Regions from separate parts of the Homo sapiens genome. Here region 2 is linked to region 1. Evidence: fine-mapped expression QTL. Tissue or cell type: visceral fat. Region 1 holds a variant in brackets; the other region holds the start of a gene. All regions are shown on one strand. Distances are between the middles of the regions.

What was found. PIP is the estimated chance that this variant, and not a neighbour inherited with it, causes the effect.
Region 2: it holds the start of TF, and the variant in region 1 is fine-mapped to the expression of TF in visceral fat (GTEx, PIP 0.97).

The regions. Positions count from the first base shown.
Region 1 is chr3:133,761,236-133,776,598 of GRCh38, forward strand. TF (transferrin) reads left to right here. Exons shown (of 17, transcript NM_001063.4): 10 at 2,947-3,040; 11 at 3,640-3,672; 12 at 5,043-5,198; 13 at 6,794-6,929; 14 at 9,273-9,337; 15 at 14,198-14,382. It also overlaps the pseudogene ACSL3P1. Among named protein-coding and RNA genes, the nearest start is that of TF, 23 kb to the left of the region's middle. The variant TGAAATA/T (reference allele first, on the strand shown) is at 11,491.
Region 2 is chr3:133,737,274-133,752,636 of GRCh38, forward strand. It overlaps TF (transferrin), which reads left to right and starts at 9,120. Exons shown (of 17, transcript NM_001063.4): 1 at 9,120-9,210; 2 at 11,139-11,311. The coding sequence starts at 9,168.

The DNA.
Region 1 (15,363 bases):
GAGGAAGATGACTACATTGGATATTTACCTGTGGCCCATGTTCTAGAATTAAGCTTTGAGCTTCTTTGTTTTTCTCATGGATGCCTGCTTGGCTCCTCTTCACCCCAGACTTCAGTGGATCAGTCTTTAAAAGTAAAAAATGGGCTGCCCACTGTGGCATGCAGCTGTAGTACCAGCTACTCAGGAGGCTAAGGTAGGAGGATTGCTTGAGCCCAGGAGTTTGAGTCCAGCCTGGGAAACATAGTGAGACACCATCTCAAAAAAATAAAAAATAAAAAAATAAAAACCAGAAGCAAAGGGTGTACTTCTGGGTTGAGACCAACACTGATGGCAGCTGTTCTGGAAATCATGGATCAGATCTACCAAAATGTCATGAATTAAGTGTATGAAATCAGTAGTCTTCAACACAATCTGTTTATTCTGGCTTATAATTATAAAATGGAACACATTTCAAAAGAGCATAGTACTGGATTGTGTGACAGCTTTGTTTTCTGGAAACTGTGAAGCTAGCTAGGTGGAAATATTCAGCTTTTATTGTATGAAAGTGCTCCACTTTCTGCAACACGCAGCAAGTTCATGAATACAGACTCACTGAACCTACAGGGGCTGGAACAATTACAGATGTGTGGATTACAAGACTGGCAGAAGTGAGAGTCCCATTAGTTTGCTGTGAAATTAAATTAAAGAACTGGGAGGAAGGTGGATACTTTAATACTGAAAAACCACATCCCAGAGGTAGAATTCTTATCGGTGGCTAAAATGTGACAATGGGATGCTACAGAAATGAAGCAGAAACAAAAGCTGATTTATTTGAAGATGGAAATGGACAGAAGTGATTATGTCCTAGAGATGCTGAAGAGTTTGATGGTTGTTTACAGATGATCGATCATAAAAAGGACCTTGTAAAACTACAGGCAGGAGACTATGTTTCCCTTGGGAAAGTAGAGCCAACTCTGAAGAATCTCCCAGTAATAGATGACGTTTGTGCATTTGCAAACAGTTAATTGTTCTTATGTCATTGGATTTGTTGTGCCAAATCAAAAGGAACTAACAGAACTAACTTGAAAGAAAGGACTTACAGGAACTTGAGAGTAGCTCTCTAACAGTTGTGAAACAGAAGATGAGGTGCAGTAGTCCCCCTTTATGTGAGGTTTCGCTTTCTTGGGTTATACCTACAGTCAACCGTGGTCCAAAAATGTTAAGATATTTTGAGAGAGAGAGAGAGCACATTAACATAACTTTTATTATAGTATGTTATAATTGTTTTATTATTGTTGTTGTTAATCTCTTACTGTGCCTAATTTATAAACTTTATCATAGGCTTGTATGTATAGGAAATAAACATTGTATAGGGTTTCAGGTTCCAAGACTGGGGGTCTTGGAACATATCCCTTGAGGATAAGAGGGGACTACCATACGTAAAGTACTTTCTGAAGCTGCTATTTGGGCGTGTCTGAAAAAGTTTGAAAATCTATTAAAAATTGGTTTGAGCCCTGACCCATGAATCCTGAAACTGGTCTGGTGACAGGTGCCTTCAAGCTAAAACACAAAGAATTTAATACACATTACCAGGCAGACTCTGAGCGAATGTGTGGAAGAAATGATTTTTCTCTTTTGGCATCAGTTTGCTACAGTGAGCTCAAATCAAATAGGAAATTATTTGAAATGCATGTTTCAAACTGTGAGGCAAACTCCATTCTTCATATTCAACCTAGATTTTTACTTCTTAAGACATCACCATTTTCAACAGACAGGATTAGTAAAATAGTAGGAGAGCAAACTTGTGTCTGTCTTTTTCCTTTTCCCCTCCTACAACTACCTTTACCTAACCTGTGACTGTATTGTCAGTATAAGGAGTTTTCTGAATCATAGTGAGGAAGCAGATTTCTAAAACCTCAAGTTTCTAAACATGACCTATATATTCAGTTTATGTTTAAAGTTTGGATGTGTAGAGGGAGTTATGGAAAATATATAAAGTGGCTGTTGGGGGGTGCTTTTTAACTTACAGTATTAAAAAAATGCAAGGCTATTGATGTGAAATTACATACATTTCAAATGCTTATGAATCAAATCATTATTGAGGATAATATTTGCTGATGTGTAATTACTATCTTGCATGAATTAAGAGAAATAAATATAGCCATACTTACGTTTTAAAGAAAAAAATGATATTTTAAGACTGATATCTATTCCATAGCATGGATGTGCTTCCACTTATTTAGCTATTTCTCTGTCATTGAGCATTTAGTTTAATTTTCTTTTTGCTATTATAAATCACACCTGTTATTTTTGCCCACTTACACATTTTGTCCAAATAGTTGCCCACCAATCTGATTGTTCTTTTATGGTTTATTACTAGAAAGTATATTGCCAGGCCAAAGGGAAATCTTACAAACCTTGTTGAATCTAAGCATCTCTGAAATTTGGGGCTTACTAGAGCTGAGATTTAGAACATTTGAAAATATTTGACTCATTCATTAAACATGTTGTATGCACCAAACACGGAAATAGCACTCAGCCAAGGAGGCTGACATTAGAGGCTAGAGCCCCCCTTCAGAAGGTGCTGTGTTCCACAGCCACAGCCACGAGTCCCTGACTCCACTCATCCATCTGCACGTGAGAATTCTTGGTGTCAGAAATGTGTCGTAGGAGTGTCTCTGGGACAGTGTGTCCTACAAGAGGGCAAGAGGACTGAATGTGGGTCTTTGCTCTTGAACTAGGCACCTGGAGTTGATGATCAGTTCATGATGGTTGGGTGAAAATGAGAGTACATTTGATTTTCTCTGCTGAGTGTGCCTGGCTGATCTTTTGGGGGTTCAGTATCAGCATCTGCTATCTCCCTGGCATTCATGTGCTGGAAAGGCTGCTTCAAGGAAACAGCTGGAAAAGTGGGTGGCACAGGAAACAGCCTCTTTTCATCTGCTGTGATTTGCTGTGTCTTTGCAGAATGGAGAAGCTGATGCCATGAGCTTGGATGGAGGGTTTGTCTACATAGCGGGCAAGTGTGGTCTGGTGCCTGTCTTGGCAGAAAACTACAATAGTAAGTGGTGGGGAGCACCTCTCTGTGTTTTCTTCCCTCAGGGCCATGGAGAGAGGAGATGGAAAAATCACAGTCTGATTCATACCACAGCTGCCATAAAGCTTTCCCTCTCTGAGCACCTCCTACTTTGCAAGCTCTGGGCTCCTTCATCTCAAATCCCCACAGTCATCTTGAAGGTTGGGAGTTATAGTACATTCCAGAAATGGGAAATGAAAGTTCTGCACTGGGAAGTCCTCACTAAAGATGACCCCATTGCAAAGGACAGCTGGGATTTCTGGCAGTCTTCCAGGTTCCAAAACTCACACTTCTCTCACTGCCCTGTTGCTAGGATTTAAATATAGTTGGCTAGCACGCCTCTGTGGTCTCAGTGCAGACAGAGCAGGAAACTTGACATTCGCAGTTTGTGGATAAATTCTAGAGGCCAGGAGGTGAAATGGACTTGCATGATCCAGAGAGTCTGGACTTGTTGGGAATTGATGACATGTATAGATAATTTTCTCTGACTTTCTTTATTCTTAGCTGCAGCATAAAAAAAAGGCATGGTTTCCCAATCTATAAATCAGGGTTTAATGCCTTTTTCATTTTCTTTTCTCCTGCAGAGAGCGATAATTGTGAGGATACACCAGAGGCAGGTGAGTTTGAATTGGTAACCTCTGGAGTTAAAAGATAAATTCCCATTGTTTTGGGGAATTGGTTAGATTTAAAATTCAAGTATATAAGGTGCTGTAAGAGACCAATTTTCACAATGCGAGAGAATCATGGAAGGATAGTAATGGATAATGATGGTTATCCCTTTACACTTGCCATGGCTTGCACACAGGATTTTTCATTTAATGCTATAAGGTAGGTTTTGGCATCCTCTGAGGATACACAAGTGGACCCTAAGCTGAGGGAGTTTACAGACAGATCGTCTAGGATTATACATCTAGGAAGGGAAATCCAGGTCTTTCCCACTGATCCTCACCTGACATGACATGAGGCCTGCACATTTTCAGATAAGAGTAAGCACCAACCAAGGAACTTTGCTTATTTATTCCTTACAGGGCTCAATAGAGAGCCTCACACAGGCAGATATCAAGGAACATAAAATTATCTGACCTTCTAGCCAGGGCTGGGTCCAGGAACCCAGGCCAACCTGGCTTCTCACCCAGGGCTCTGGGTAAGGGTACATCTGAAGAAACAGAGCAGGAGCAAGTCAGGAAGTCTTACACCAAGGTGAGCACTGGCCCCCTATGCTCAGGCCCCTGCAGGTCACATTCCAGACAGCCATTACTGTACAAGTCTGTCCTTGCCACTTCCACTGATTATAACCTCCCAGCCTCTCCCCATCACTTGGGGAGCTAAGCCCTTCAGCAGATATAGAAAAAGCCATTCTTATTCTATGGATAATAAAGATTCTGTTTTCTGTTGGAAACTGTAATCTGAATTAAACTGGCAAACTGAAATCATAGGTTGATGTTCTATTTCCCATTTTAAGGACCAGTATATATTTGCTGCTGAAAATGGAAGCTGACTTGATATTGACATTTTCCATTTTGCATATTTATTTTGGTATAAAACTATATTCTCCTTATCAGAAAATGTTTGGCTCAGTTTTTTCTCTTTTGCTTATTGATCTTTTACTACTATATCTCAACATATGTTAATTTATGAAAGTTTGTGGTTACATTAGCTGTTTCAGTATCCATTCCTCTGATAGGACTCATTGGATGGTGAATTGCTGGCTTATAACTTCAGTGACTTTATGCACTTAGGGAAGGGTTATACACCCAGCCATTGATCTAATGATGGTGTTTTCACAATATTTTGTTTTTAAAGTTCAGATTAATCTTCTCCTGACAGAGTTCCTTGTACTTCCCCTCAGTCAGATACTGGGAAGATCCTCTCAAGACACAATGACTGATTGAGGATATCTTTGCTTCCCTAGGGAAATTGATTGGAAGCAGACACTCTGGAAGCCCCAGAGGTGTTAATACATCCTTTTCTGGTGTCTTTCTTGTAGGGTATTTTGCTATAGCAGTGGTGAAGAAATCAGCTTCTGACCTCACCTGGGACAATCTGAAAGGCAAGAAGTCCTGCCATACGGCAGTTGGCAGAACCGCTGGCTGGAACATCCCCATGGGCCTGCTCTACAATAAGATCAACCACTGCAGATTTGGTGAGTGAATATTGGGAAGGAGGGCTGGTGAGGGCCATGCCAGAAAGCAGGGTCCTGCCTTAGGGAAGAGGAGTGTGGCATAAGGTGCTGTGGGCTCTGGTTCTAGAGAAGTAGAATTTGGTCAAAGAACAGTAGAATTTGCTGTCCTCAAGGACATAGCAACAAGGGCTGGAAGGACTGGAACTGGGTTGCTGAGTTGGGACGGTTCATTTAGGTTGAACATATTAGCATGAGTGAATATACATTTATCTCTCAGGAGAAAGACCAGAGGTGAGCAGTGCATGGCTGGTATGGTCATGAGAAACCCAGGCTCCTTCACACTTTCTGCTCCTCTATTCTGAGCATAAGACTTCCATCTTCAAGGTCACCCCATGGTTGCCATCGCATCCATGATCCAGGCAGCCCCAGTCACCAAGGGGTTACAGCAAATGGAAGTTTATGCCACCTTTTTAAAGGAGCTCTCTAGGAAGTCTAACCAGTTATTTCAGCAAACTTCTCATTGCCCAGAACTTAGGTACATCACCATACCTAGCTGTAAAAAAGAAATGTAATCGTTCATCTGGAAATGTCCCTACCCCAGATAAAACCAGATTTTTGTTACAAAGTACAAGGAGAAACAGATATTGGGTAGACAGGTAGCAATCCCTGCCACAAGGTTTTGTATGGTATGTGAGTGTGGGAGATCCCGGGTCTCTTCATGGTGTTGGCAATCTCACCAAGTCCCTACCCAGCTCCTAGGACCCTTCTAAGCAGTAGAAATCACCTCATTTTCTATGTCCTCTGAATACCACCAGGTATGAGCTTATTTCTACCCCGCTTAAACTTTTAAGTGTAAGTTCTCCTACAGACAGATGTTTTCCAGTGGTTCTGATTTACATTAGCTTCCTAAGTACTTTGTCCCTGCCACCTCCAAATTTGGGCAACTCTTTAAAAAAGAAAAGGCCTCTAAATCTGGTTATTAACCCAGAAAACCCTGTGGGGTCAGGGAAGTGGTGATGAGAGTATGCCTCTGTACCAGGGTGCTTTGTGACACCACTTAGACATGAAGCAAAGTGTGGCCAAGGTGACATTCAGAAAACTCAGGATCCCCACTGACAAAGGCACTACCTCTGCCCTCCTGAACCTCCTAGCACTTTTATGGCCACAGGAGAGCAGCTGAGCTGCAAAGAAAATTCCCCATCCCTTTCCTGAGGTTGGAGATGTAGCAAAGGCTCTTCTAATGAATGGCAGGGAATGGGGACATCTGAAAACAGGTGGCACAAGCTCAGGAAGCAAGACCTTCAGTCTTCATCTTTTTCTGTTCCCTTTCATGACATTTTTCATCTCTTCTTTGTTTAGCGTAGTGATGACATCATTATTGTGCTCAAATAAATCCCCTCTGCCCTGAATTGTAATGGTCATTAACTCCTTTTCCCAATCTCAATAGGTTCCCCTTTAAAGCCTATAGCCTGGCAAGTCCTGGGTTGGTGGTGGCTGGTCACAGAATTAATGAATATGTTCTACTTATTATGGGCCATGCAGCCCTGTTATCTCTTAAATAAAAGCTGCTTGCATTGACTCAGGAAAAGCTGACTTCCTCTTGTCCTTCTGCACAGATGAATTTTTCAGTGAAGGTTGTGCCCCTGGGTCTAAGAAAGACTCCAGTCTCTGTAAGCTGTGTATGGGCTCAGGCCTAAACCTGTGTGAACCCAACAACAAAGAGGGATACTACGGCTACACAGGCGCTTTCAGGTGAGTCTTTTAACCCTGAAACAAATAGAATAATATACAAGCCCTGGCCAGATTTCTTTTAGGAACTAAGGTAAGATTCTTAGGTTCCTATTCCATTAGTGCGGCATGTATTAAGAGAGTATATTTCACAACCAGATATAGAGCCACATGGGGAGGGGCAGCCAGACTCCCCCAGGATGCTGACATGGCTGTCAAAGACAGCAGAGACTTGTGTTTGGTACAGTTTAGCAGTTGTCAACGGGTGATTTGACCCCCACGGGACATTTGGCAATGTTTGCATATATTTTTTATTGTGACAATGTTGGGGTGGGGGAGGAAGTGCTACTAGCATCTAACACGTAGAAGCCACTAAACATTCAACAATGCACAGGATAGCATGGTACAACAAACAATTATCCAGCCCCAAGTGTCACTAGTGCCTCGGCAATGATACCCTACTGTAGTTGAATAAACACTGAGTGGAGAGTTTGGCTCAAGCTTTTCCATGCACCTCTGGATAATCCAGAACAATACTCATCTGGAAATACAGAATAGTACATGATTCCTAAATTCCTAACTACAATTGTACTTTATGGAGTGCCTATCATTCATTTTCATAGAGATACCTGTGTACCTTGCTATTTTTTTTTTTTTTTTTTTTTTTTTGGAGACAGGAGCTCTCTCTGTTGCCCAGGCTGGAGTGTAGTGGCACACTCATGGTTCACTGCAGCCTCAACCTGCTGAGCTCAAGCGATCCTCCCACCTCAGCCTCCCTAGTAGCTGGGATTACAGGCATGCACCATCACACCCAGCTAATTTTTGTATTTTTTTGTAGAGACAGGGTTTTGCCATGTTGCCTAGGCTGGTCTCAAACTCCTGGGCTCAAGCAATCCTCCTGTCTTGGCCTCCCAAAGTGCTGGTACTCACAGGCGTGGGCCACGTCTGGCCCTACCTTATTACTTTTTAACTACCCATTCTGCTTTAGGCCTTCTGTTATTTGGTGGTTCATGAATCCATGAACTGCACAATGATGATGGTATTATAACTGAGCTTCCCCGTAATGATGTAAAAAACAAAGGTCATTCCTATTTTCCAGTTAGAGCCACTTTGTAAGTTAGATTAAGTACAATTCACATTCCCCAAGTTTCTAATTTCACAAAGTAGAGCATGTTGTTTTCATAAAGATTGAAGAGTTTGGGGGACTTAAAATAGAGTTCCCCTTTGCATTTTTGTACCTTGTCTTTTTCTGGTGATAACATATGTTTGAGAATTATAGGTCATGAGAAAAGGCTCAAATAACATGTATGTATAAACATGCTTAAAATAAATGTGTATAAAGGCTTCTTTTTCTAAACATGTCTTATAAAACTTAGCTATGAAGTAAAATGTACCAGACTGATAAAAAGACTCCAAACTCCAAAGAAAATAAAATTAAATCAATATGTGGCACAATAGGTACCCCGTCTTCTCAGCTAGCTACCCCCAAAACTCTTGAACCGATGCAGTAATAGGCAGGTTCTTTTCCTTGAAGCAAGGGGATTAAAGTACATGGAGAGCAGGGTTCAGTCCATTGTCCAAAAGTCCAACCCACTCGGCTCATTGAGGAGGGCCTTGTGTAGATTTTGAAGTACACACTAGTTCATCATCTGTGTGGTATGCCCTTTCAAAGGACTGGAAGACAGTCAAAATTAAAATTAGAACCCTACTAACCAGAGTTTATTTTGTTATTATTTCTTTTCTGAAACTTCTTGGGGACTTGTAGCTCAGAGCTGTGTTACAACCCCCATTACCACACCCAGAGATATGTGGCCTGGGAGTTAGTAGAGTCAGGTGCCTTTATGCCATGTTTTGCCATATTCTCTGCATTTCTCAAAAACAAAAACAAAAAAACCCACAACATAGCAAATGCTCCATAAATGTTAAAATTCTTTTTCAAAGGAATGAAGGACAGCACAAATTGCAATTTGTGATGGAGTTTCAGTCTCTCACAAATGTTGCCTAGACATTCGCCTTGTATGAGAACCTGAAGGAACTGAGTTTTTCATTCATATGCTGGGGGAGGCATCACCTCACTGAAAATCAATTCCCTACTATCCTTGTTGATGTCAGGGAAATTATGTCATCTCTCAGAGAAACAGTACAAAAAATTAAGATTTAGTATGTGGAACTGAGATTGTAAAACTACAATCAATTCAGAGTGTTTTGTTTTTGTTCTCTTTATTCCTTACATTGCTTACTGTTAGAATGGAAGTTACAGTTGCTGTTTTCAGATGGCTGTCCTGAATCTATAAGGTAGCCCCCTGAATGACAGATAAGTCACTCTGACCGCCTTTTTTTTTCTCTCCCACTTCTGGACCTCTGCAGGTGTCTGGTTGAGAAGGGAGATGTGGCCTTTGTGAAACACCAGACTGTCCCACAGAACACTGGGGGTAAGTGCACCTGCTCCTCTGTCCCCCTAGATCACTAGATCCTGGTCACTGGTATTCACTTGTATTCAGGGATGCCTTTGTGGAAGTATTATGTACACTGTCAGACTTCAAAGCTCTGATTCTCAGTCTGTCTGCTCAGTGAAGAGAGACATGTTCACCTGAGTGCGCAGAATGATCAGGATTATGGGGCCCCCAATGGCCCTAAATCCTCCCCAACACACACTCCCACAGCTGCAAGCCTTGTGCTCCTTTCCCCTAAATACTTCAGTGCCTATTTCCTAAGAATAAGACAATCTCTTGCATACCCACAGTATGATTACCAAGATCAGGATCTTTTACATTATGTGGATTTAATACTCGTCACGTCCACAGTCCACATTTAACTGTTGTCAGTTATCCCAGTAATGCCTTTTATAGCTATTTACTGTACTTCTGGGTTGTGTCCATTGAGAAGGCCTAGAGGCAATGGCATACCAGCAGGAGTAAGCACCAAGATATTGGCTTGTAAGTACTCTTCTTTACTAAAAGGAACCAGAACTCCTTGGAAAAATAGCTGACTTCAGGGCTGGGGCAGGAAAAATAGATGCTGAGCCTAGAACAACACACTGAAGTGCTCAAACAGTGATGGGACACTCAAAGCATACAAGAACCAATTTGAAGGATCTCCTGTTGCCAAGTCTGGGAATTTTGAGCATTAAAATAAATAATGATAGCAGTAAGGGATAATAGCCCATTGAAAGAAATAAGAATGCATGAGGCAATACTGATTAAACAAATGAAGAAGGGAAAACTAATCAATGTGGAAGGAATGATAGAGTTAGAAAACTATCACTTGGCAACCAATATATTGATAACTGATTCAAGCAAGAATCAATGGGTGTTAAGCCGGGCGCAGTGGCTCACGCCTGTAATCCCAGAACTTTGGGAGGCCGAGGCGGGTGGATCATGAGGTCAGGAGATCGAGACCATCCTGGCCAACAAGGTGAAACCCCGTCTCTACTAAAAATACAAAAAATTAGCCGGGCGCGGTGGTGGGCGCCTGTAGTCCCAGCTACTCGGGAGGCTGAGGCAGGAGAATGGCGTGAACCTGGGAAGCGGAGCTTGCAGTGAGCCGAGATTGCGCCACTGCAGTCCGCAGTCCGGCCTGGGCGACAGAGCGAGACTCCGTCTCAAAAAAAAAAAAAAAAAAAAAAAGAATCAATGGGTGTTAACTTGTGGGTGAACGTTGGACAGCCATAATATTAATAAAAACAAACAAAACAAAGCAAAACAAACATTGGCCAGACTGAGCACTCCACACCTGACCCCTCAGTATCACTAAGTGCTAGCAGAGCCCACTGGAATTCAAGCTGTGAATACTTCCCTGCCTTCTCTCATGTTCATTCCCCAACTCCTCACTTTTCCTGGGCAACTCATCCAGAATGAACCGGCTCAGCACCAGCCCCTCCAGGAAGCCTTCCCAGATGGCATACCCTGTCCTACAAGAAGACTCCTCTGTTCATATTGCCATTATGATTGAATTCACCACACTCTGTAATACACTTTGGCTACAGAAACTCTTTGAGCTCTTTTTCTTCATCTTATATTCCCAGAACCTAGTGTAGCACATAGTACACAGCAGTTGCTAAGAATTTGTTTGCAGAAATATTGGGTTGACTAATTTTCCTTTCTTCCCTCGTATTATTGCTTTTTCCTTTAAGAGAGTGTTACCCTAAGCTTGGCTCTTTGCCACCCTTGATTTCTTTTGGTACTTTTCTGAGTAGAGCTCCCTTCTTTAAGCTTTGACTCTCTTACTCTTTGCAATGACTCAAAAATTCTTCCCTCCTGCATAGAATTAAGATAGGAGGCCTGACATCCAATCTCAATTCCATTCCAGTCTATTTCCCAAGGTGTCACTTTTATGTAGAGAGTACATTGGCATTGCAATTGTATTTTTTTACGTGTGTATATGGATGTCCTCATATATTGTAGTTGTATATATACAATCCATATACAACTCAACTGTCCTCATCTTTCTGTCAACGTTCCCTCCTCTTCTCCCAGCCTCTATCCTTATAGAGAATCCTGCTATACTCCCTGCCCATCAGGCCTAGATTAAGTCTGTCAGTCAATATCTTATTTCTTCAAAACGTGTCTTTTTTCAAACTAAATTT[TGAAATA/T]ATTGTGTGTATTTAAGGTAGACAACATGATTTTTAAGAGCCAAAGTAATTTTGATGTATTGTAAGTTTGGGAACTACTGGTCTAATACCCCTGACTTAATATCACATTCCTGATAAATATTACTAAATGTAAGTCACATCATGTCTGATTCATCATACTTATATTTTGCACCTTCTTACCTTCTTCTGTTATTAATTTGTTGCTTTTTCAACTTATATTTTAGATTGAGGGTACATATGCAGGTTTGTTACATGGTATACTGCATGATGCTGAGGTTTGCGGTATGATTGAACCTGTCACCCAGGTAGTGAGCATAGCACACAACAGGTAGCTTTTCAACTCTTGCCCCCCTCTCTCCCTCCTCCAAAATCTGTCTTAAGTGCTATGGTATATACAAGAAGGAAGACACAAAACCACGTGGGCTTTTTTTTTTTCTTTTTTTTCTTTTTGAGATGGAGTCTCACTTTGTTGCTAGGCTGGAGTGCAGTGATGTGATCTCAGCTCACTGCAAACTCCGCCTCCCAGATTTAAGTGATTCTCCTGCCTCAGCCTCCCAAGTAGCTGGGACTACAGGCGTGCACCACCACGACCAGCTAATTTTTGTATTTTTAGTAGAGACGGGGTTTCACCATGTTGGCCAGGATGGTCTCCATCTCTTGGCCTCATGATCCGCCCACCTCGGCCTCTCAAAAGTGCTGGGATTACAGGTGTGACCCACCGCGCTCAGCCCACATGGGCTCTTTTATCACAATTTGTGTGTGTGTGTGTGTGTGTGTGTGTGTGTATGTGCATATTATAGGTGTGTGTAGGAAAAAGAATGTTAGAAATGTACCAATTTTGAAGGCGTAGACTATGAAATTACAAATGCTTCAAAATTTTCTTCCCAATACTTACGTGGCATTTTATAAATTTCCACCAATAAACGTGTATTATTTTTATTGAAAAAGCATATTTTTAACATGCCCTTCTAGATGCCCTCCTAGCCAGACTGAATCACCTCCCATTTGATTTTTCTTAATTTTCTACCTTTAGGTTCTGGCTCATTCATTAACATCAATTTCCATTCATAAGTCCTCACAAACCCACTTTTCCTCTTGCCTGAGTGCCTCACATACCCTACTGCCTGAGATGGTTCCAGAGGCGGTCTCCTCTCTCCCTTAGAAACACCAGGCACACACCTGCCCCCAGTCTCGCCTGCACTCTCCTTTCCTCCCGCAGAGAGGCATTCCTTTCTCCTCCTCTCATCCTACACACACTATAAGAGACAACTGAAATCTTGCCTCCTCCAGCCAGCTTCTTAATTCATTTGTTCTCAAAGCCCTGGTTTGAGCTCACACAGCATCTAGAGTGTTTTACAAAATATAAAATATTATTATCCCTGCCCTGAATTTTTTGTTTTGGTATGTGTGTTATTTTCCCCTCCAATAAGATTGTGCCTTGGAGAGGGCTGAGAACATAGTATCATAGATAAATGAATAAAATAACATAAAATAAAATAAAAATACATATACCCTTTGAACTAACTATTCCACTTCTATGTAAGCACAATTATATGCCAGTAACACTCATTTTAACGCTACTTTAGTGGCAAAAAATTGTAAACACCTCAGATGCCTATTAAAAGAGGAATGGTTTAAAGATACTATTATAGCCACACTATGAAATATAATACAGTAGTTAAGAAGAACGAGCTTGATTTGTATGTACTGACAAGAAGAATCTATAAGGTATGTAAACAGTTGAAAAAAAAGCTACAGAGTTTTACATTTGTCAAGATCTAACACTAAACAAAATTAGAAACATGTGAAATCCATATACACACGTAGAAAAATACATATAATGAGCCGTGGATGGAAACTCGCAAATGTGATATTAAAGACTAGCACTATAAGACTGAGTGAGATTTGGAGAGTATAGGAAAGGAGGCTTTTAGTTAATATAGAGAGATATTCAAAAATTTATGAGTGTGATCTCATGTATTAGTTATTCGGTTAAAGAAACAAAATTAAATGAAAAATACATTTTTAAAAAGGTTGCAATTCTGAATTATGGGAGAGAAATAAAAATTAGCAAAACATATTTGCAAAGTGGCTCAGGAGGAAGGAGCTGAAACCCTAAGAATGGGTGAGTTTTTTTTTTTTTTCAGAGACAATACAGAAAAGAAGAGGCAAAGGGGCCGAGATGGGATACAGACCTGTATCACACAGGTGTGTGCACATTCTCATTTAGAACTGGAACAAGGGAGTCAGATTTAAAATTCTGGTGCAGATTCCAAAGGTGTTCTCTGAGGAAAAGTTCTTTTGTTTGGAGATGCCATGTGTTACAGCACAGAAATTGATCAACCTGGCTTAGAGCGTCACATTCTTCCTCTGTTGGAGCAAGAGGTACAGAAGGAATTGGAATTTAGTGGAATTGAAGATCTTTTTGAACAGCATCTGCAGAATGTAGTTCATTCTCACCTGGCTGGGTAGGGAAGGTTGGAAGGGGATGGTCAATAATCATTCCTGGTCACTGTGAGTCTGGCATCACCTTGTAGACCACATGGGTGTCTCTTCCTGTCCACATCACTGTAACCCCAGTGTGGGCACTTCTGCTGGCGAGAAGGCCCAGGTTCTCTACACACCACTGAGTCAGTTCCATCTCCCCAGCGGGGCACCTTGACCAAAGCCATCAGCTGAACCACCTTCTTCCTGTCCCTAGGAAAAAACCCTGATCCATGGGCTAAGAATCTGAATGAAAAAGACTATGAGTTGCTGTGCCTTGATGGTACCAGGAAACCTGTGGAGGAGTATGCGAACTGCCACCTGGCCAGAGCCCCGAATCACGCTGTGGTCACACGGAAAGATAAGGAAGCTTGCGTCCACAAGATATTACGTCAACAGCAGGTATGGACCAGCCAGGTCCTCCCACCTTTTCTTCCTAGATGGCCATAGGCTATTCGGGGGGAGTTTACAACAAAGTGCAGCCATGACTCCAGCACTTTCTTTTTGAAAACTAGAATTCCATGCATTGTGCATTTCATGCCATGCATTGTGGACTAGAGTATCAGGGTTCAAATCACAGCTCCACAGCTTCCTAGTTGTGCCATCTTGGGTATGTTACATAACCTCTCTATGCCTCAGCTTCCTCATATATAAAATTGTAATAATAATATTTTTACCTACTTCTCAGTTAACATGAGTATTAAGTGAAGACATGCACCCAAACGGCATAGGAAAATTCCATTTCCTATAGGACGTGCTCAAAATATGTTAGCTGTGTAATTATGGAACTAGACCTCTCAGGCCCAGCTCTGCTTCTAGCTCCTGGTCACTGGTGATTAGATCTGATCCATGTACTCTTGGGACTAGGAATCTGCCTTTCTGCTCCCCCTAACCTTGTTCAGGGGTACCCTCATTTCCCCTACTCCTGTCCTTCCCGAAAATGAAGAAGACAGCTCCTGTTTCCCAGCGCTTGTTGATACGAGTCATGAAGAGTGGATTTCTGTTCCTCTTGCCTAGGCAGACTGAGCACTGTTCTCAACAGTCTGAAAAACACAGGACCCTTGCCCTCGGAGAGCCTGCCCTCTGGGGGAACAACCACTCAGGGCCAGCCTTGTTGAAGACAGGGGCTGCCTGAGTATTCTAATCCTAAAGGCCCCTCCACACACACACATCACCTTCCTTTTGGGCATAGCTGCCTGCTGTTGATTCACCATTACCTTTTTTTAAAAAAAATAAGAGTATATTTGAAGTCCTTTTAAGGTACATGACAATAATAAGCATTTAACATACATTTCCTAGCTGCTATATGGAAAGTTCAACATTTTGCAGTCATCATTTCACTTACAACCTTTGGAGATCTGGAGAAGCTGAGTGGCTTGCCCA
Region 2 (15,363 bases), 24 kb before region 1:
AAAGACACAATGTACCAGAATCTCTGGGACACAGCTAAAGCAGGGTTTAGAGGGAAATTTATACCACTAAATGCCCACAGGAGAAAGCAGGAAAGATCTAAAATTGACACTCTAACATCACAATTAAAAGAACTAGAGAAGCAACAGCAAACACATTCAAAAGCTAGAAGAAGACAAGAAATAACTAAGATCAGAGCAGAGCTGTGGGAGGTAGAGACACACAAAAAAAAACCCTTAAAAAAATCAATGAATCCAGGAGCTGGTTTTTTGAAAAGATTAACAAAATGGACCGCTAGCCAGACTAATAAGAAAAGAGAGAAGAGTCAAATAGACACAATAAAAAATGATAAAGGGGATATCACCACTGATCCCACAGAAATACAAACAACCATCAGAGAATACTATAAACACCTCTATGAAAATAAACTAGAAAATTTAGAAGAAATGGATAAATTCCTGGACACATACACCCTCCCAAGACTAAACCAGGCAGAAGTCAAATCCTTGCATAGACCAATAACAAGTTCTGAAATAGAAGCAGTAATTAATAGCCTACCAAGAAAAAATAGCCCAGGACCAGAAAGATTCACAACTGAATTCTACCAGAGGTACAAAGAAGAGCTGGTACCATTCCTTCTGAAACTATTCCAAACCATAGAAAAAGAGGGACTCCCCCCAACTCATTTTATGAGGCCAGCATCATCCTGATACCAAAACCTGGCAGAGACACAACAAAAAAAGAAAATTTCAGGTCAATATCCCTGATGAACATCAATGAGAAAATCTTCAATAAAATACTGGCAAACTGAATCCAGCAGCACATCAAAAAGTTTATCCACCACGATCAAGTTGGCTTCATCCCTGGGATGCAAGACTGGTTCAACATACTCAAATCAATAAACATCATCCATCACATAAACAGAACCAATGACAAAAACCACATGATTATCTCAATAGATGCAGGAAAGGCCTTCAACAAAATTCAACACCCTTTCATGCTAAAAACTCGCAATAAACTAGGTATTGATGGAACATATCTCAAAATAATAAAAGCTATTTATGACAAACCTACAGCCAATATCATACTGAATAGGCAAAAGCTGGAAGCATTCCCTTTGAAAACCGGCACAAGACAAGGATGCCCTCTCTTCCCACTCCTATTCAACATAGTATTGAAAGTTCTCGTCAGGGCAATCAGGCAAGAGAAAGAAATAAAGGGTATTCAAATAGGAAGAGAGGAAGTCAAATTCTCTCTGTTTGCAGATGACGTGATTGTATATTCCGAAAACCCCATCGTCTCAGTCCAAAATCTCCTTAAGCTGATAAGCAACTTCAGCAAAGTCTCAGGATACAAAATCAATGTGCAAAAATCACAAGCATTCCTATACACCAATAACAGACAAACAGAGCACCAAATCATGAGTGGACTCCCATTCACAATTGCTACAAAGAGAATAAAATACCTAGGAATACAACTTACAAGGGATGTGAAGGACCTCTTCAAGGAGAACTACAAACCACTGCTCAACTAAATAACAGAGGACACAAACAAATGGAAAAACATTCCATGCTCATGGATAGGAAGAATCAATATTGTTAAAATGGCCATACTGCCCAAAGTAATTTACAGATTCAATGCTATCCCCATCAAGTTACCATTAACTTTCTTCACAGAATTGGAAAAAACTACTTTAAATTTCATATGGAACCAAAAAAGAGCCCGCATAGCCAAGACAATCCTAAGCCAAAAGAACAAAGCTGGAGGCATCACACTACCTGACTTCAAACTATACTACAAGGCTACAGTAACCAAAACAGCAGGGCACTGGTACCAAAACAGATATATAGACCAATGGAACAGAACAGAGGCCTCAAAAAATAACGCCACACATCTACAACCATCTGATCTTTGACAAACCTGACAAAAACAAGCAATGGGGAAAGGATTCCGCATTTAATAAATGGTGCTAGGAAAACAGGCTAGCCATATGTAGAAAACTGAAACTGGACCCCTTCCTTACACCATATACAAAAATTAACTCAAGATGGATTAAAGACTTAAACATAAGACCTAAAACCATAAAAACTCTAGAAGAAAACCTAGGCAATACCATTCAGGACATAGGCATGGGCAAAGACTTCATGTCTAAAACACCAAAAGCAATGGCGACAAAAGCCAAAATTGACAAATGGGATCTAATTAAAATAAAGAGCTTCTGCACAGCAAAAGAAGCTATCATCAGAGTGAACAGGCAACCTACAGAATGGGAGAAAATTTTTACAGTCTATCCCTCCGACAAAGGGCTAATATCCAGAATCTACAGGGAACATAAACAAATTTACAAGAAAAAAAAAACCCTATCAAAAAGTGGGCAAAGGATATGAACAACCATCAAAAAGTGGGCAAAGGATATGTCACAAAAGAAGACATTTAGGCAGCCAACAAACATAAGGGAAAAAGCTCATCATCACTGGTCATTAGAGAAATGCAAATCAAAACCACAATGAGATACCATCTCATGCCAGTTAGAATGGCAATCATTAAAAAGTCAGGAAACAACAGATGCTGGAGAGGATGTGGAGAAATAGGAATGCTTTTACACTGTTGGTGGGAGTGTAAATTAGTTCAACCTTTGTGGAAGACAGTGTGGCAATTCCTCAAGGATCTAGAACCAGAAATACCATTTGACCCAGCAATCCCATTACTGGGTATATACCCAAAGGATTATAAATCATTCTACTATAAAGATACAAGCACATGTATGTTTATTGTGGCACTATTCACAATAGCAAAGACTTGGAACCAACCCAAATGCCCATCAATGATAGACTGGATAAATAACATGTGGCACATATACACGATGGAATACTATGCAGCCATAAAAAAGGATGAGTTCATGTCCTTTGCAGGGGTGTGGATGAAGGTGAAAACCATCATTCTCAGCAAAGTAACACAGGAACAGAAAACCAAATACCACATGTTCTCACTCATAAGTGGGAGTTGAACAATGAGAATACATGGACACAGGGAGGGGAACATCACACACTGGGGCCTCTCAGGGGGTTGGGGGCTAAGGGAGGGATAGCATTAGGAGAAATACCTAATGTGGCATGATCTCAGCTCACTGCAACCTCTGCCTCCTGGGTTTAAGTGATTCTCGATTCTCATGCCTCAGCCTCCCGAGTAGGTAGGACTACAGGTACATGCTACCATGCCCGGCTAATTTTTGTATTTTTAGTATACACGGGGTTTCACCATTTTGGCCAAGCTGGTCTCGAACTCCTGACCTTAAGTGATCCTCCCGCCTTGGCTTCCCAAAATGCTGGTATTACAGGCATGAGCCACCGTGCCCAGCCTCTTTTGCATTTTCTTTTACAAACTTTAGAATTATGTTGTTAATTTACATGAAAAAACATTTGGAATTTGATTGGGAGTACATTGAATTTCTACATCAATTTAAGGAGAATTGTAATTTTTACAATATCAAGTCTTCCACTCCCTGTTCAAGATATAGTTTTCCATTTACTTTGAGTTTCTTAATTTAAAGTCTGGTACATAAAAGTTTTAGATGTCTTTTGATAGATTTAATCCTAGGCATTTGTTTTTCTTATGTTACCTTAGGTAGCATTTTTCATGTTTTTTTTTTTTTTTTTAATTTGAGTATAGAAATACAATTGACTTTGGTGTGTTTACCTACCTTGATCCAGCTCTATTTTTTTTTTTTTTTTTTTTTTTGAGACAGGGTCTCACTCTGTCACCCAGGCTGGAGTGTAGTGGCACAATCTCAGGTCACTGCAACCTCTGCCTCCCAGATTCAAGCAATTCCCCCACCTCAGCCTCCTGAGTAGCTGAGACTACAGGTGTGCACCACCACACCTAGCTAATTTCTGTATTTTTAGTAGAGAAGGGGTTTTGCTATGTTGGCCATGCTGGTCTCAAACTCCTGACCTCAGGTGATGCTGCCTGCTTCAGCCTCCCAAAGTTCTGTGATTATAGACATGAGCCACCATGCCCAGCTTTAACTCATTTATTCTAAGGTATACTCTAGTTTCTTCAGAATTTTATATACATACAATTTATTATGCATAAAGATGAGAATTTATTTTTTTCCTTTTCAATCCTTTTACTTACTATTTCTTTTTCTTGCCTGACTAAACTAGCAAGGGCCTCCCGTAAAAAGGATGACCAGAAATGATAATAGTAAACATTCTGGTCTTATTACTGATCTCAACAGAAAAGCTTTATTCAGCATGCCACATTAAGTATGATTTCTGTAGATTTTTATGGTACACTAATACTTGATATCAGACTGAGAAAGGTTTGTCGAATAAATTTGCTAAGAGGTTTTGTTATGAATGGATATTGAATTTTATGAAATGATGTTCCCATACTGAGTGATAGGGTCATACCGTTTTCCTTTATTATTCCACTAATATGATATATTACAGTGATTGATACTTGAAAAGATAGCTTACATTCCTGGAATAAACCCAATTTGGTAATTATTTATTAATCTTTTTTACATTTTGCTAGATTCTATTTGCTAATCTTTTGTGTAGAAATTTTGCATCTGAGTTCATAGAAGTTATTTTTTTATCTTTGTCATGATGTCTTTGTTAGTTTTTCCTTTCTAAGTATACATACTGTCCTCAAAACATTAGTTAAGGAGTGTTCCTACTTTTCTGTTCCTGGAGGAATATATTGGTTTAATCCTTTTTCTTTATTTAGAGACAGGGTCTCACTTTGTTGCCCAGGCTGGAATGCAGTGTTGTGATCTTGGTTCACTGCAGCCTTGAACTCCTGGGCTCAAGCAATCCTCTTACCTTAGCCTCTTGGGTAGCTGGCACTACAGGTGCATGCCACTGTGTCCAGCTGATTTAAATTTTTTGTAGAGACGAGTTCTCACTATATTGCCCAGGCTGGTCTTGAACTCGTGAGCTCAAGCAATCCTCCTGCCTCAGGCTTCCAAAGCCCTAGGATTACAGGCATGAGCCACCACCCCCACGCTGTAATTCTTAAATGTTTGATGGAATTCATTCCACCTGGCCCTGGACTATTCTTCATGAGACAGGTATTTTTGCAGACTCCCCTGTGAAAAGAATGGAAACCTTGAGAATCTTCATTGTCCAAGGACTTCTGAGAGGTAGAACAGAGATAGAGAAAGGGAAAGAGAAGGAGAGAGAGAGAGAGAAAGAGAGAGAGAGTGAGAGCGAGTGAGCAGTGGTGTCATGTGGCATTTCAAAATGCCTGGCATTTTCCTAAAAGTACCCTGCCCAGTCCCCAACCCCCTAGCCATACAGCCCGACCCAGCGGGCTTGCAGGGTGACTGATTTCGTGAATGTCGGTTCTCAGGCTGCCAGGCTGCTGCTTCTCAAGGATGACCCAGACTTAGAGAAGTCTCTGGTGTCAGGCAGAGGACACTGGGTGGGGGACAGGAGGAACTGCTCAAAACAGACAGAGGCTCTTTGTTTGCTTTGCTTCTGTGTCAACTGGGCAACATTTGGAAACAACAAATATTGGTTCAGAGGCCCACTGCTTTCTTACCCACCTCCTGCTGGTCAGCTTTTCCAGCTTTCCTGCACGTACACACAAGCGCAGCTATTTCTTTAAGGGCCAACTCGTGGTTGAAATTTGAGAGTTTTGCCCTGTTTGCGGTGAAAGATTTGGCTCATGCTTGGGTTGGTCTAGAACTGGAAGCTTCCTTTATGTCCTCTATCAATCTCTTTCTCTTTCTCTTTCTCTCTCACCTCCCTCCCTCTCTTTCCTCCCCCACTAAATAAATAAAGAGAAGGTCAATATCAAGAAGGCAGCTGTGGTCTGGAGAAGGGCAAGATTTAGGAAGTTTGAGTTCAGGTCTCAGAGCTCCATGAATAAGGACCCATCATTTGACTGTAATGACCACATGTGATAAATGGAGGTACTGATCTTATCTTGCATGGCTGCCCCAATGATCTTGCCCCAGGACAGTGCCTGACACATACAAGGGGATAAAAACATGATATTTTCTTCCAGCTGAGCATAATCAAGCCAGTCCATGTCTAAGGATCTGCAGTTGGTACTCAGACCTCTCCCAGACTGACCAGCCCCTGTGCTGGCAAAGCCCTGGGGGCTGTGTGCTTTTGGAGAAATGGCAAGGCTGGGAGTCTCATGTCTGTCCCTCTCTCGGTGTGACCCCAGATGAGCTCCTTGGCCCCTGCATGTCCTGGTTTCCTGGGAGAGGCAGTGTCCCTGGTGGATGTGTACACTCTGGAACCAGACTGCCTTCTTTTGTATTCTGACTTTGCAGCTGACCTTGAACAAGATATCATCCTCTCTTGTCCTCAGTTTCCTTGTCTCATCTGTAAGATACAGATGCTAAAGCACCAAAGTCAGAGGGGTATGGTAAGTGCTCAGTGAAGCTCCCAGTAAATCTCAGCCATCATTAAGCTATTAAAAGGGACAGTGATTCTCCAACTCCAGAACATCTCTGGTATAGAATTAAAGAATATAAATGAGAGCACAGGTACAAGTGTCATGGACATGGAGCGCTGTAATGTTAACCTCTTACCTTCACATGCTCCTATAGACATATACAGGCATAGGCACCCCATACAGCTAGGGCCATGCACACATGTACACCCCAAAGCTGGCCTCACCCCTGCCTACCCCATCCAAGGAATGGCAAGCACGAAGCTCTGCTGTTGTCCTCTTGAGCAAAAGCCAAGGCCCTGGCCTCTCCATCTAGGTGTGTGTAGATGACGTGGGAGCACCAGTTCTCTATGTCTTGTCTGAGCTTCCTTCATATCCCATGAGGCTGTATATTTCCTTCCCAGCACCTGTCTTGGGCTTGGACTCAAAGGACCCTTCTGAGGACAGGGCATAGAGCTGGCTGCTCTGGAGAGGACTCAGCCTGGCCAGTAGGTAGTTGCTCCCTGCTGAGGGGCTCTGGCTAGGCTATGGGCCTGTGGCTGGAGGACTGGCCTCAGCGGGGCTTAGTCTACGAATGTAGATGGGCTCCAGAAAAGGAGAATCACTGACCATCTTCTTTCCATGCCCTGCGTTGAGCTTCCCTGAGTTTGTGGCATGGGCTCAACCTTTCGTAACTGCACTTCCTGCTCTCTGGCAGACCCTGCAAGCTTACTACAGGGCCTGTCCATGCATCAGCTGTATGTGTGCATGCTGCTCTGCTGGGTGCCTTCCAGTTAGCCTTGCCCCTGACTTTTCCTGCTCATCTCACATCCTTACCTCAAGGTCTCCAAATGAATCCAGACCACTGCCTAGAGCCTGCTGCAGGGGCAGTAGGAATATGGCCCTCATGCTAACAGTCTTCTTTCCCTATGGCTCAAGCACAAGGGGCCCGTGGACGGGCAAGGGGGGAGTAAGACAGGGCAGCAGTGGTCACTCTCCCTCGCTGGTGAGGCTGATGTGTTGGGAAAGCCAGACTTGACTTCTGTCCTCACTGTAAACAGAAAGCTTCTGTAGTGGACTCTAAAGTGGGAGGTATGTAACCCCTTTGCATATGAGATAATCTTTTGGAGTGTGGGAGAACATAATCTAACTTCCAGTTATATTTATTGTTATTGCAAAAGATTAACAAATTATCATTCATTCATATTGAATGTGTGAATTGGCCCTATCTCCCACCTGAGTCTGCAGTCATGACAGATGGAGCCTTTCAGGTGTCCTAAGGGAAGATGGGGTTCACCTCACAATGCTAAAGGTGAAAAGGGGAGTGCCGACCCTGCCCTTTGTTTTGGCATTTTTATTTCCATACTTTGTGGTTTGTATGTGCCCAGTTAAACGGATGTACAGATTAGATAATCTGGCTTTAACTCCAACCTTCACGAGATGCACACATGCCTTAAAAAGATTCTTACAAAGAAACTAGAATTAGGAGACAATTCTGACAACACAAAAACAAGTGAACAAAAATCAAATGACTGACCTGACGTGTCCACTAGGCTTGATATGAGCTTGGTCAACTAAAACATGAGACAGAATGAATGACCATCTGGTCAGGTTGGATAAGAAGTAACTTTTGGCAAAATCTCTGAAGTCTGGATTTACACTTCGTGGAAGGAATCTTGACCTTTCCCCAAGTATATTATGCCTTGAGATAATAATCCTGTATAAGGCCGCATAAGCAAAACGACATTTGAAAATGAGTTTCATCTTTAGCTCATCCTTTTACAAATTTCTATTCCTTGTGCATGATTGAAGTGTACACATTTTTTAGTTAAAATATAAGCATATAGAAGGCACAAGTTCAATATTTTTCATGATAAGGATGTGTAATTAAACTGGTTAGGAGACTCATCGACTAGAGGGGGACATGGTGGCCCCAGGCTGTAAGAACAGGCCACACCGTCCACTGGGCCGCTTGCTTTGTGCTAAGATGACACTTTGTTCTGAGCCTCACAGTGTCTTGACCATGTTCCTGGAACCTTCTTGTTGGAGGGAGTTCATCTTCCCCTATGACTCTGTCCCTAGTCTAAGGTGTCCCACAGGAAGCTTGAGGGCGGGAAGTTTTCCAGCCCAGGAGCCTGAGCTCAGCGGGGCAGGAAGAGGGAGCAGCTCCTCCGTGGGGGACCTTTGAGAGCCCAGGAGCAGGATTTCGAGGGACACCTGGTGGGGAGCAAAAGGTGCTGAGTCTGTCTTTGACCTTGAGCCCAGCTTGTTTCTCCTGCATCCTCCCCCAAAAGGGGCTTTGCCTGTCATTCTGCAGTTCTAGTGTGGGGTCTGGGCGCAGTTCTTTTCCCTCTCCAGCCTCGGAGTCTTCCTCTGTGGACTGCGCAGATAGGACTGGTGGCACGGACCAGCTCTGCAGCCCTGGAGTCAGGAGCAGAGCCCCCCGGCTCCCAGCCCGCCGTAGCCGCTCCTGGCACCGAGCGAGCCGCGATGACAATGGCTGCATTGTGCTTCATGTCCCTTCCCATCAACATTTCTGTGCTGGACTCCTTCCACTCGCGGGTCGTCTCCAGAGCTCAGAAAATGAGGTGATCAGTGGGACGAGTAAGGAAGGGGGGTTGGGAGAGGGGCGATTGGGCAACCCGGCTGCACAAACACGGGAGGTCAAAGATTGCGCCCAGCCCGCCCAGGCCGGGAATGGAATAAAGGGACGCGGGGCGCCGGAGGCTGCACAGAAGCGAGTCCGACTGTGCTCGCTGCTCAGCGCCGCACCCGGAAGATGAGGCTCGCCGTGGGAGCCCTGCTGGTCTGCGCCGTCCTGGGTGAGTGCGGGCACGGGGTAGCACCGCAGAGTCGCTGGCCCGCGCGTTCCCTGCAACCCGGGCGGCCACCGCGCAGCCTGCATGCACTCCGCGCTCAGGCTGGAAGCCTGGGTGTCTGGGTGCCTTTCCATTGCCTCTCTACGCCCCACCCCTGGCCTTTGCTTGGGCTTCTAGACACCTTTCACTGCACTCACTGTCTTCTCCCCCTCCTCCTCTTTGTCCAGTAAATCTTGCAGCAGTGAAATACAATAAATCAGAGCACGTCTAACCAGGTTATCAAAACCCTTTGCTGCTGCCTCTTGTCAAGTCCGAACTCCTTAGCATGGCATTCAAGGCCTCCCGGGTCTGACCATTCCCCTTTCAGAGGCTGATGTCCCCTGGGTGCCCTGGGAGCTGTAGATGTCCTGCCAAGGAAGCGGTGCCATCGAGCGGTCAGAGCATGGGGTTTGAAGCCAGACTTCTTGGATCCAAGTCCTGGCCGGCTCCTCACCAGGGAGGGGGTCATCACAGCACTTGCCTGGGAGGGTCAAATGAGGGTCAGCGAGGTGGCAGATGCTGAGTACCAGTGGCAGATGTTGCACACATCCTGCTATGGGGCAGTGGCTGACGCCACACTCCCCGACCTCCTGAGGTGGGGCCCCCTTCATACTCTAACTTCTGCCTGCCATTCATGGGGCATTTGTCACACTGTTGGGGCTTCCACGTTTAGTTTTCTCTCCCCATAAGCTAGCAATTCCTTGAGAGAGGACCCCACGTTACTTGCCTTTATCCCCGCACAGAGCACTTCACAGGCTGTGCAAGGTAATGCTCCACTGAGGACACATTCTCGCCTATGGGAACTCTGGAGGCAGGGCTTTGTGGAGGGGCTGCCACAGGCTTATGTTGCCTCCTAGGATTTCCCATGGGCCAAGAGGGAAAATGGGGGTCGCTGGGGTGGCCATCCCTGGTGGCCCCTCCTCATGCATCCTGGAGAGCTGTGGGCCTCCTCTCCACAGGCTTTGTGGATCTTCTTCAGAGCCAGTGAGTCAGCCTTGCTGTGGTGGCCCACAAGGAGTGGAGATGACAGAGGGCCTTGGGGACAGGGCAAAAGCTCATGTGATAGGGATGCTGTCTCTGCAACCACATGGATTTTAATAGTTACCCATGGCTGGCTTCAGCTTTTTTTGTGAATGGCAGCCAAAAAGTGTGGTGAAAATGGAGGGATAGTTCAGTGGAGACAGAGGGGAGACTGTTGAATTTGTGGAGTTTTTAGTTCTTCCTAAACAGAGAGCAACAGACAAGAGTTACAGACAAATTAATTCTTTTCGTTAATTTACCCTCAACTACTGGCCAAGAAGGGGTGTAACTCAGAATGTTTTCTTCTTTTGTGCCCTGAGTAGCAGACCCAGAGTCTGGAGACCCAGATTCTAGGCCTGGCTTGGCCAACGACAAGCAGGGTGACCTTGGGTTAAAAAAAAAAAAAGGCATCATTCTCTGAGTCTCACTCCCTCTTCTCAAAAAGATGGCAATTCCTCCCCCGCTGGTTTTCCATAGTTGAGGTAGCAAGCCAATGTGTTGGGGTAGCTGAAAACGCCCTGTGCATACTGAGGCTTATGTTCCATGGGGGGCCAGGGGCCAGGACAGTGATGGGAGGAGACAAGGCGGATACAGAGGAGCAGATTGTCATCTCCAGCTGGGAGGTGATGGCCATGCCTGCACCCCTCTGGCCAGCAGAGGGTGGTCAGTAGGAAACTGGGAGGCCATTAGGGCAACCTTCTATTGGCTCAGACTCAGAATGCAGTAGAACTTGTGCCCTGTAGTGTTCATGGACAGGAGTGAGAGGAGGACAGGACTGAGGGGATGTGGCTGTCAAGGCCTTTCTAGGGGCGATGCTGTCTCTCCCTCAGCATAGGGAGTGGGCCCTTCCACCTCTGGCCTCTCTCCCCCAGGGCTGTGTCTGGCTGTCCCTGATAAAACTGTGAGATGGTGTGCAGTGTCGGAGCATGAGGCCACTAAGTGCCAGAGTTTCCGCGACCATATGAAAAGCGTCATTCCATCCGATGGTCCCAGTGTTGCTTGTGTGAAGAAAGCCTCCTACCTTGATTGCATCAGGGCCATTGCGGTAAGTCGCTGCTGCCTAAAAGAGAGTGGAAGAAAGCCATACTTTCTCTGTTTCCAGTCACTTTGGAACAATTCTTTACTCACAGGTAGGAGGCTGATATATGGGGCAGTCAACCTTGACTTACTAAAATCACTTCAAAAGTGGAAATGGGGAGGTTTTCTTTAATGTGTCTGGAAAGCAAAAGTCAAAAAGCACATTAACTTTTGCTTTCCAGACACAGTAGACGCAAGGGTGACTGTTTTGAGACCCTAGGTTCTCTGAACTTGGCGAAAATATAAGAATGCCTGCTATCAGGCTGGGCGCGGTGGCTCATGCCTGAAATCCTAGCACTTTGGGAGGCTGAGGCAGGTGGATCACCTGAGGTCAGGAGTTCGAGACCAGCCTGGCCAACATGGCGAAACCCCATCTCTACTAAAAAATATAAAAATTAGCTGGGCATGGTGGTGCATGCCTGTAATCCCAGCTACTTGGGAGGCTGAGGCAGGAGAATCACTTGAACCGGGGAGGCAGAGGTTGCAGTGAGCCAAGATCCTGCCACTGCACTCCAGCCTAGGTGACAGAGTGAGGCTCCATCTCAAAATAAATAAATAAATAAGAATGCCCACTATCAAAATTATTATATAACCTTCTTTGGCAGCTTTTGATACACAACTGGGAAGATGAGTGATGCATGCAGGGGGAAGAGTAAAGTGTCCTGATTGCAGGTGACAGCTGATCTTTTTGTTCTTAGGTCTACAAAAATGCTCTTCATTCTTTCAACGTTGCCCCTGCCCATCTGTACATGTCAGATCCTGTGCTGGGCAATGGGGCTGCAGTGGTGAATTAAACACATTGGTCCTTACCCTCAGGGAGCTCATGGGCTAGTCAGGAGAGCAGAAAAACACACGAATAAGTAAACTACTAATTCCAAAATGTGGGGATGTACAATGGAGGGAAAAAGGAGAGTGTTCTGACAGGGACTCACAGAAAAACCTGCTTTGTCCTGGGTGGTCAGAGACCATCTCTCTGAGAGAGATGTAATGAAGGACTGAGCCTGGGTGGGCTCCAGTGTAAAATACACCAGGCAGCAAACAAGAGCATATGCAAAGGGCCTGAGGCAGAGCAGAGTGGGCTTATTTAAGTTGCTAGTGGGAGGCCAGGGTGATGGGAGCTGTCAAAGATAAGCACAGCCAGATATTAGTTTAGGCAGTGACAATAGGTTTCATTCAGTAACTGCTGACAGTGGGGGAAAGAGCTAGGCTCCATTCTGATTTGTGCAGTGGTGATGTGAGCATTTTAAAGGGAGAATGAGGGAGGGGAGAACGCAGGGCTCTGTAGAGTCAGAGAAGTAAAAAGGTAGAAAGGGCTGGTCAGTGTAAATGTGAGGAGGCCAGCTGTGTCTGATAGCTGGCAGTTCTCTCGATTAGGACTCTATTCTCCCGCAGAGACTGCGAGACAGACACTCTATCCATCCTGATGATTGTGTTGCAAAGGAATGGCTCTCAGTCCTTGAGAGAGATGCTTGTGAGTTTCAAGAGATACATATTCACAGTTTTAAGTCCTTTTTAGTAAATTCTCTTGGAAAGGGAGGTCAGGGGCCTATCATCAGTTGTGTGTTGAGTAGAAGAAACAGGTACATTTTCCTGGCAGCACTGAGTTTTCTCAGGCAAGCACTTTAAGGGGAACCGGGCCATCCTAGGGACACAGATTTGTTCTGCTAGGAGCCATGCCAGAGTCTGGTCAGGTCTCTTAGTGCAGAGGTTTGGACAGATGTGTCAAGTGTGGGAAATTCTACAGTTCTCAGCACAAAGCAAGCAGTAGGTTAGCCGAAGGGAAAAGGTGGAAGAAACATCCAGATGCAGCCTGGCTTCCCTCAATCCCCGCGCTGGGGTTTTCCGTGTCTTTCTGCTGGCTTCCCCTTGGCTTCCCTCCAGCCTTCTCTCTGTAGCTTTCCCTCTTCTGGGTTTGGTTATTTTGACTTGTGAGAGCTTGCTTGATTATAATCCTGTCCCTCCCAGCTGGCGCAGGTTCCCCTGGGAACCCTGCAGCTCTAGGGCTGGACGCTGTGTTTTAGGCCTTAGCTCTTTGGCTCCCTGAGCCCCCGAGGCACCAGTGATTTCTTGGTGTCTTGGCAAAGAAAGACCAGGTTCCTGACCACTCTCCCAACCCCACTGCAATGGGCAAAGCTCTCGTTTGTTTGCTTCATTTTTTAAAAAATATATATATATTTTATTATACTTTAAGTTCTAGGGTACAAGTGCACAACATGCAGGTTTGTTACATATGTACACATGTGCCATGTTGGTGTGCTGCACCCTGTTTGCTTCATTTTTATTCAACAATGTGAGGACTGGGGAAGGGAAGGTGTTTGCAGATTAAACAAAACCACGAAGTGTGTTTCATATATAAGGTCTAGTTGTTGTGGAACAGAAAGGCCCATGATGTCTGTTAATTTTGTTTTGTATTGTGGTATATTAAAAATATGTTTTACAACCCAAATATCCATTGATGAGTGAATAGATAAATAAAATGTGGTAAACACAAATGATGAAATATTTTTAGCCTTAAAAATAAATGAAACTCTGATATATGCTACACTGAGATGAACCTTGAAAACATAAGTGAAGCAAGCTAGATACAAAAGGACAAATATTGTAAGATTCCACTTTTTTTTTTTTTTTTTTTTTGAGACGGAGTTTCGCTCTGTCGCCCAGGCTGGAGTGCAGTGGCGCGATCTCGACTCACTGCAAGCTCCGCCTCCCGGGTTCACGCCATTCTCCTGCCTCAGCCTCCCGTGTAGCTGGGACTACAGGCGCGCGCCACCATGCCCGGCTAATTTTTGTATTTTTAGTAGAGACGGGGTTTCACCGTGTTAGCCAGTATGGTCTCGATCTCCTGACCTCGTGATCCGCCCGTCTCGGCCTCCCAAAGTTCCACTTTTATGAAGTATCTAGAATAGTCAAATTTATAGAAACAGAAAGTAGCATAATGACTACCAGGGGCTGGAGTGGGGGAGAAATAGGAGGTAATTGTTTAATGTGTAAAGAGTTTCAGTTTCTGGAGATGGATAGATGTGATGGCTATAAAACAACGTGAATGCATGTACTTAATGCCACTAAAATGTACACTTGAAAATGGTTAAAATTGGCTGGGTGCGGTGGCTCACGCCTGTAATCCCAGCACTTTGGGAGGCCGAGGCGGGTGGATCACCTGAGGTCAGGAGTTTGAGACCAGCCTGGCCAACATGGTGAAACCCCATCTCTACTAAAAAAAATACAAAAATTAGCCGGGTGTGATGGCAGGCGCCTTAATCCCAGCTACTTGGGAGGCAGAGGCAGGAGAATCGTTTGAACCCTGGAGGCAGAGGTTACAGTGAGCCGAGATTGAGCCATTGCACTCAAGCCTGAGGGACAAGAGCGAGACTGCTGATATAGTTTGTCTTACAACATATTTTATTTCATTTAGAAATACTATTGTCTTATTACTTGATTGTAACACAACAAAGTTCATGGAACTATAGCTTTTGCTTTGTAATTTTTTTTTTTTTTTTTGAGAGTCTTGCTCTGTCACCTAGGCTAGAGTGCAGTGGTACAATCTCGGCTCACTGCAACCTCTGCATCCCAGGTTCAAGCGATTCTCCTGCCTCAGCTTCCCAAGTGGCTGGTATTACAGGCATGTGCCACCAAGCCCAGCTAATTTTTGTTTGTTTGTTTTGGTAGAGACAGTGTTTCACCATATTGGCTAGGCTGGTCTCGAACTCCTAACCTCAGGTGATCCACTTGCCTAGGCTTCCCAAAGTGCTGGAAGTACAAGGTATGAGCCACTATACCTGGCCTGCTTTGTAATTTGATCAATAAGAAATCTTCATAGAGAACTGGCAAGGGCTTCTGGAAAAATCATTTTGATTAAAGACATTTAAAACAAAAAAGGAGTAAAACTATGTGTTTAAGTGTCTAAATAAAAGATGGTTGGGCTCACTTTAAGGATTTACATAAAAAGAAAATAAATTATAGATCTAGTAAGAAGGCAGCTATAATATTTCAAGGGACCTGTTGATGTAAAGATGAGGGCTT